Linked DNA regions of Homo sapiens. The protein of the gene in region 2 interacts with the protein of the main gene of each other region in a pairwise test. Each region holds a gene or a part of one and is shown on either strand. Other genes may lie near its edges. The genes, in order: RERE and ZMYND8.

Region 1 (3,809 bases), on a different chromosome or scaffold from region 2:
CAGGAGAAGGACAGGCCCTTTCCTCGAAGGCCCTCCGGTAGGAGGACGCACAGTCACTGCTGGGAGTCAGCCTAGACCTGCCATGCGCAGTTACCCCGGCAGCTTCGGATGTGCAGCACCCGTCAGAGGTGTGGAGACAGGGTGTAAATAGCACCCAACCCTCTAGCTGCCAGGAGGCCGAGTCAGGCAGCCAAGGGCAGAGCTCGGTGGCCCAGCGTGGCTCCCAGGCGCAGGATGGACCAGCGCCCCCCGTCACACCTCGCCAACCCTGGACTCACAGCCGCCCGCTCTGCCTCGCGCTCCCGCTCTCGCTCCCGCTCCCGCTCCTTCTCCTTCTCCTTCTCCCGCTCTCGCTCCTCTCGGGCTTTCTGCTCAGCCTCGCGCTTGGCCTTCTCAATGGCCTCCTCCCTCTTCTTGGCCAGCTTGGACCCGGCCAGAGGCATGAAGTACAGGTCTGTCCGGGCACACGAGTTGTAGCCCCGGTCCAGGTGTTTGTAGAACCTGAGAAAAGCCACAGATCTTGCTGGGAGCTCCTGCCGAGACCCACCCCGGCCCTCCCTCCCACCAGAACTTGCCCCCACCAGCCCACCTGTGCCTGACCCGTCCTGGAGCCCTAGGAAGCGTACCTAGCTGACTGGCTGGCGTGACTGGGGGTGTCCACCACAGTGGGCTCCGGGGACGGGCTCCTTGGTGGGGGAGGGGGGCTCTCAGGCTCCTCAGCGTCGTCCAGAGCCTCCTCCTTGATCTGGACGGTGGGGAGTGGGCAGGACGACCCCCCCGCTATGCTGCCTCCTGAAGCCGCCGCACCAGAGCAGGGTGGCTGGGCCGAGGTGCCAGGTCCCGCCGGTGGGGTAGAGGTGGAGGGGCAGGTCGGAGGGGTGATGGGAGGAGGGCCTCCAGGGACAAAGGGGTGCTGAGCAAACGGGGGTTGGGGGGCCACCTGGTGGAGGCCTGTAGGGGGGTGGGAGGCAGGGGGCGGGGGCAGGTTCTGGCTCTGGGTCAGCCCGGGGGGCTGGGCGGGCGAGGAGGGCAATGGCTGGCTCTGAGGCATGAGTTGCAGGGGTGGGGGGTGAGCCGACGGGGGGTGATGTGTGGACAGGGAGCTCAGGGGCTTCAGGGCTGGAGGGGGAGGCAGGTTGGCATTCATGGAGAAGGGTGAGGGCCCCGAGAGGTGGGGAGGGTGCTTGTGGGCCTGTGGCGCCGGCAGCTGGGGGATGGGAGTGGTAGGCGGGGGCTTGATGTGGGGCATGGCCAAGGGCGCTGGTGGCAGGGGCTGCTCCCGTGGAGGCTGTTGGGACTGCAGCGCTGACTGAGAGGCTGGCAGCTGCAGGGAGGTGTGAGGGTACGCTGCTGCTGGGGAGGTCCCCAGAGGGGCCTGGCCTTGGGAGGCCTGGGGAGGGAGGCCAAAGGGCTGTGGGGGGCCTGGGTGCTGCAGCAGGGGCCCAGCCTGCAGGCTGTGAGGGCCGGGTGGGCCCTGACCGTGCAGTGGGGGCTGGGCATGAGAGGGTGCAGAAGGCTGGCCCGCCGACCCAGTCAGAGGCTGCAGCGGGGGATGTGGCGAGGGATGCGGCGGGGGATGCGGTGAGGGCGGCCGCTGGGGGTGCAAGGCCGGTGCCTGTTGGATGTGGGTGTGGGGAACAGGCGCTGTGGGAGCCTGTGGCTGGTTAGGGGCCTGGGAGGCCGTGGGGGAGCCCTGTGGGGGAACTGCAGTGGCAGAGGGCGTGGGCCCTGGCGTGGGCAGCTGAGGGGTCCCTGGAGGAGCTGAGGAGGGAGCTGGGGTGACCCCAGTGGGAGCCTGCAAGGCTGGGGGCTGGGCCTGCAGCATCTGCTGCTGGGCTGACGAGTCCGAGTCACTCTCATTGTCCTGGGGGCTGGGGATGCTCGGGGACGTGCTGCGATTGTCCTGGTCGATGTCTTTGGGGTCACTGCTACCCTCATCGTTGACGCTGCGACTGTCTGAACTCTCTCCCTCACCTTCAGATGGCGAGTTGGGCCTGCTGATCTCCTGGAGTCAGAGAAGGGAAGGATGGAAGTCCCAGGAGGGCAGAGCCCTGTCTGCTCTGCACCACCAGTGCCGGACACACAGTAATGTTTGTGCAGATGAAGCAGCAAGCTTGGCTCCGGGACCACAGGTCGTGCCCTGACCCAGCCAGTGTCAAAGGCCACTCCAGCCCCACCCTAGGAGACAGGGCACGGCCACCAACTAGGGAGAACCCCGGCTGGGGGCTTCTGAAGAAGCATTAGCTTTACTCAGCAAGGCTCAGCAGCAAACCTCACCTGCGTTTTTGTCTTCTTGGAGCTGGTCCTGTCAGCCTCCTCCGTATCAGAGGCCACCTTCTCCCGCTGGCGTTTGTTACTCTTAAGAGGGGAAGAGGCTTCCTCCTTCACCTTCTGCAGGGGAAAAGCCCACAAGGAGCAATCAGGCCAAGGGAGACCATCCCATCAGCCTCAGCAAGGAAATGACGGTTTGCAGACACTTTGCTCCCTCATTCTGAGTTCCATCTCCAGGAGCAAAAAGCTCTAGAAGGGTCAACTGGGGCCAAGAAGGAACACGTATCTGGGGGTGGGAATGAGAGCCAGCCCTCTGCACCTGTGGGTTTGCATCCTCAGATTCAAGCAACCATGGACTGAAAATGTAGGCAGGACTGTGATGGTTACATCTATACTGAACGTGCACACAATGTTTTCTTGTCATTATCTCCTGAACTAGACAGTGGAACCACTGTTTAAACTGCATTTACATTGCACTGGGCAGTAGAAGTAACCTAGGGATGATTTAGAGTCTACAGGAGGATGTGACTGGTCACATGCAAACCATGTGTCGATGTATATGAGATTTGAGCACCTGTGGATTTTGGTATCCTGGGCGGTGGAGGCTCTGGAGCCAATCTCTAATGGATACCAAGGGAGGACTGTACTTGGCTCTGGAGGGAGCCGTTCTAACCACTCCCCACACTTTCTGAGAACTTGGGAAGCTTGAGGCAGAGGTGGCCCCCAAGAGTTGGTGCTCGAGCCCCCTTCTCTAGGCCCCCAGCCTTCGGTCTGCAGCCCCTAGGCCAGGACAATGCTGGTGTCCAGACAGGCTCCATGAATGAGCTGCATCCTCGTGTCTGAGGGAGCTGATCACGAATACCAGCAAACCAGTTTTAATGTGAGGGAGGGACAGAGTAGGCCCTACTATCCCCCCAGCACCTGACCTTGGCCGACTTCTTCACTGTCTCTGCTTTACTGTCATTGCTGGAGGTACTGGCAGCGCTGGGGGAGTTCCGGCCGCTGGAGCGGATGTCTTCATTGATGGGTGAGGTGCGACCATCAGGGCTGGCTGGCTGCTTCTTCCGACCACTGCGTAGTGTCGACATCTGCCCACCCAAACCGAAGACTGGTGACACCAGATTCCCAGTCCCCATGTGGACCCACCTGAGCCCAACCCACAGGCAGAAGCCTGAAGGCACACCCTATCAGCCTCTCAGCAAATCCCAGACCTTGGCAAACAACAGGCCGCCCTGCCTGTCCCTGGCTGCATGAAGGTCGGTGTGGAGCTCAGGGAAGAGGTGGGGAAATCAGTGGGCTCACGCCAGAGGGCGGTTCTCAAACCTAAAGCACTCATCCCAAGGGACTGTCCTGAACAACGTGTGCTGGAAATGAACCACACTTTCTGAGCGGCAGAAAGTCGCCTGGGGCCATCTTTAAAGCACCCTACACCCTTTCTGTTTATTCCTCATAACCGTCCATTCTCCCAACCAAACCAAATGAAATCAAACACTTGTGGATTTAATCTGACAGGACAGGAAGTGACCCAAAGAGATGAA
Region 2 (3,809 bases):
CTTCACACTGCCTACCTGAATCCTGCCTTCTGTGAGGCTGAGCTCAGATCTCACCTCCTCCAGGAAGTCTCCCCTGACTGCCCTCCCCATCTGCCCTCCTCCTTTGGTACTTCATTGCTCGGAAGTAGCAATGGTCCCTTTGTGTGGGGGTGTCCCTCCCAATCTAGACTGGAAGCTCCTTGAGGGCAGGGAGGCCGTTTTATGAGGATTTGCCTTCTCTATGGTACTTGGTCTGTGCACATGGTAGATGCTCTGGAATGTTTGTTGAATAAGTAAGTAAAGCTAGGAGGGCATTTGTAAAGAAGTGGGGGATGGCTGGGCCTCTGGAGAGCAAGCTCCTCTGAGTGTCAGTGGGTGCTCTGCATCTTCAGGTGAGAAAGCAGCTAGAGTTAGGGACCCATCTGGGGCTATCCAGAGGACAACAGCTCCCGTTGGGTTGCCTGTTTGGTGAGGACATTGGGTGGCATGGGTGAAATTTGGCATGCCATTTAAATAATCCTCTTGGGTCCTTCCATGCAGCTGGCCCAACTCTTGATTTGTTTTTATTGCTAATAAGAATTTTATTATTTCCATTTACTGAGTGTTTCCTTGGACACTATGCTAAGCACTGCATATAGATTGTCTTGGGAGGTTGATACTTTTATCAGTCCCATTTTGCGGATAGAGAAACTGAGGCTCAGAGAGATAAATAACTTGTTCAGGGTCACACCAGTAATAAAAACAGAAAAGCAGGATTTGAATTCATGTCCTTTGGACTGCAGTACCCAAGCTTTTCCTATCACATATGTGCTTACACTTTTCCTTCTTGTTTCCAATCATTACCTACCAGTAGCACAAGCCTAGGATCCCAGAATTATACCAGATCTGGGTGTTTGTATTTTGGCTTGTGTTCTTCCTGTGTTGCCCTGGCTAGCCTTGAACTCCTGGGTTCAAGCAGTTCTTCTGCCTCAGCCTCCTGAGTAGCTGGGACCACAGGTGTGCACCACCATGCCTGGCTCGACTTGTGTTTTTGATTGAGCCCTGGTGGAGGCAGATACATTCCCCAATGATCCAGCTGATCCCCCATGCCCCGGGCTGTTCATGGCTCTGGTATTTTTGCAGGTTTCTTTTTGGTGTATACAAGTCGGACAGTGGCACCATTCACAGTGGCCATTGCTCTAGAATGAAGAGATTGCACAGACTTGATTGGGTTTTCTTTCCTCTTTCTAAAAGTTTAGGATATGGTATTATTATCTACAGTATGATGGCATAACATATGGTTGGGGGCAGGAGCCGTAAATGGGTTAAATGGAACTATTGTTAGAAATGTGCTTCTGCCCATTTTTGTTTGTGTGTATGAAACACCTGCTAGTTTGTGCTTCTTCCTTTTGAAAGAGACAGAAGTATGTGACTTCTCTCTTGACTCCTTTACCAGTGGAAGAGCAATGCACACCGAGTGGCAGTTGACTTTCCACGAGTGCAGGGAACAAGAGGGAGGGCTGGGCACCCGGGTCACCTGGAGACAAGTGTGTCCCCCGCCTAGAGGAGCCAGTGGCTTTCCTGTTCCAGCCAATGCCTGGCAGGCTGGTGACCCAGAGCGGCTAGATTTTCCGCTCTTTCATCAGAAGCCCCTGCTTTGATTTCTATATGAAATTTCCTGATTTGTGAGTTGGACAACACATTTATAAATTAAAAGCAGACAAGATACCCTGTGGGCCAAACCAGTGCCTCTCGCATGAAACATGTCTGCAAGCTAGATGTGGCTTGTGGGCTGTTTGCAACCTCTGCTTTAAGGCTTTGGCTTATTTTCTTTGGCCTAGACACAAAGGATCAAGAACTTTAACCCTTTGGAAACCCAAGGGAAGAGTGTTGGTGGGGAGCCAGGAACCCGGGGTTCTGGCCTGGCCTCTGTCTTGTGTCCTAGGGCAGGTGATATCCCTGGGCCTCTGTTTTCTAATCTGTAAATTGGATCAGTTTGAACAGCTTGTCCCTGCTGTTCCCTTCCAGCCCTCTTCATTCTCAATAATCCCAATTAGTTATCAACGTTGCAAAAATTTGGCACCACATGTTTAGTGCCATATAAATTTAAAATCTCCGTTGGTAGGTCCTGTGTCTCCTAACAACCAAAACCCTCTCCCAAGGCAAGTACCACTTGGCAGCCGTAGCCAGTTGCCACTTGAGATTATTACTGGCCCCATTTAGGCCAATGTGATGCGATTTGAAACGTGCTTTTCTTATTCCAGCATTTGGTGTGGAAAAATGTTTGCATTTTTCATCCTGCTCTTTATTTTGTGACTACGCCACATGCTGGGTTTTCTTTTTGAATTTAGGCATAAATGAAATCTCGGAAGATGTCTATACGGCCGTAGAGCACAGCGATTCGGAGGATTCTGAGAAGTCAGATAGTAGCGATAGTGAGTATATCAGTGATGATGAGCAGAAGTCTAAGAACGAGCCAGAAGACACAGAGGACAAAGAAGGTTGTCAGATGGACAAAGAGCCATCTGCTGTTAAAAAAAAGCCCAAGCCTACAAACCCAGTGGAGATTAAAGAGGAGCTGAAAAGCACGTCACCAGCCAGCGAGAAGGCAGACCCTGGAGCAGTCAAGGACAAGGCCAGCCCTGAGCCTGAGAAGGACTTTTCCGAAAAGGCAAAACCTTCACCTCACCCCATAAAGGATAAACTGAAGGGAAAAGATGAGACGGATTCCCCAACAGTCCATTTGGGCCTGGACTCTGATTCAGAGAGCGAACTTGTCATAGATTTAGGAGAAGACCATTCTGGGCGGGAGGGTCGAAAAAATAAGAAGGAACCCAAAGAACCATCTCCCAAACAGGATGGTAAGTGATTGTATCTGTTTCCAGTTTTCTTAATTTGGTTTAGAATCCTACCTCGTACACTTACTATCAAAAGTTATGTGACCCTTAAAGAAACAAATCAGAAGTTATGTGACCCTCTAACACACTGAGAGAGAGGCACAGTGAAGCTGTGTTTGGTTTAAGGTTGCCTAGCTAGTCATAGAACAGGACCTGGACTCAAACATGGGCCTGCCTACCTTTAACCTGCTCGGTATCCAGTATGATTGATTTTGAGTACAGAAAGAGAAGTCTGTTAGAAAATGATGGTTACTTTTAGTGACCAAGTCATTTTTAGTCTGAGCAGCTTCTTTTCCAATATGCTCATTTATTTCCCCAAAGTGTTTGTTAACATTTGGATCTTGTCAAATGGTCCTTCAGTGCTGCATTCCACAGACATCTCATTCTCTTTTGACAAGTCTCAAACGGTTAGGAGTGTTCATTTCAAGCTGGGCATGGTGGCTCACGCCTGTAATCCCAGCACTTGGGGAGGCCGAGGCGGGTGGATCATTTGAGGTCAGGAGTTCAAAACCAGCTTGACCTACATAGTGAAACCCTGTCTCTACTAAAATACAAAAATTAGCGGGGCGTGGTAGCAGGCGCCTGTAATCCCAGCTACTCGTGAGGCGGAGGCAGGATAATCGCTTGAACCCAGGAGGCGGAGGTTGCAGTGAGCTGAGATTGCGCCACTGCACTCCAGTGTGGGTGGCAGAGCAAGACTCCCTCTCTAAAAAAAAAGCAGTGTTCATTTCAAAGGTTTTGATGATTTCAGCTTTGCTTTCCTCCCCTCATGCCACCTAGGCATCTCCAAGTGTATTTTCTTACAGTAGTAGGACAGTATTTGGGTGATTGGTGCCAGAATACTGAGTGCTTCTTAGGGCACTAGAAAATGGAGTATGGTGGATATGTGTATTGGCTTTTTTGGGGAGGGGGGGCGGACAGAATTTGGCTCTTGTCGCCCAGGCTGGAGTACAA

Evidence for each region.
Region 1: the proteins of ZMYND8 (region 2) and RERE interact in a two-hybrid assay, tested with the Homo sapiens proteins (one large-scale study listed by BioGRID and IntAct).

What each region holds. Positions count from the first base shown.
Region 1 is NC_000001.11:8,359,486-8,363,294, forward strand, and holds part of RERE (arginine-glutamic acid dipeptide repeats protein), read right to left. Parts: intron 3,360-3,809; coding exon 3,198-3,359; intron 2,392-3,197; coding exon 2,278-2,391; intron 2,006-2,277; coding exon 627-2,005; intron 502-626; coding exon 279-501; intron 1-278. UniProt on the Homo sapiens protein: Plays a role as a transcriptional repressor during development. May play a role in the control of cell survival. Overexpression of RERE recruits BAX to the nucleus particularly to POD and triggers caspase-3 activation, leading to cell death.
Region 2 is NC_000020.11:47,245,018-47,248,826, reverse strand, and holds part of ZMYND8 (MYND-type zinc finger-containing chromatin reader ZMYND8), read left to right. Parts: intron 1-2,309; coding exon 2,310-2,819; intron 2,820-3,809. UniProt on the Homo sapiens protein: Chromatin reader that recognizes dual histone modifications such as histone H3.1 dimethylated at 'Lys-36' and histone H4 acetylated at 'Lys-16' (H3.1K36me2-H4K16ac) and histone H3 methylated at 'Lys-4' and histone H4 acetylated at 'Lys-14' (H3K4me1-H3K14ac).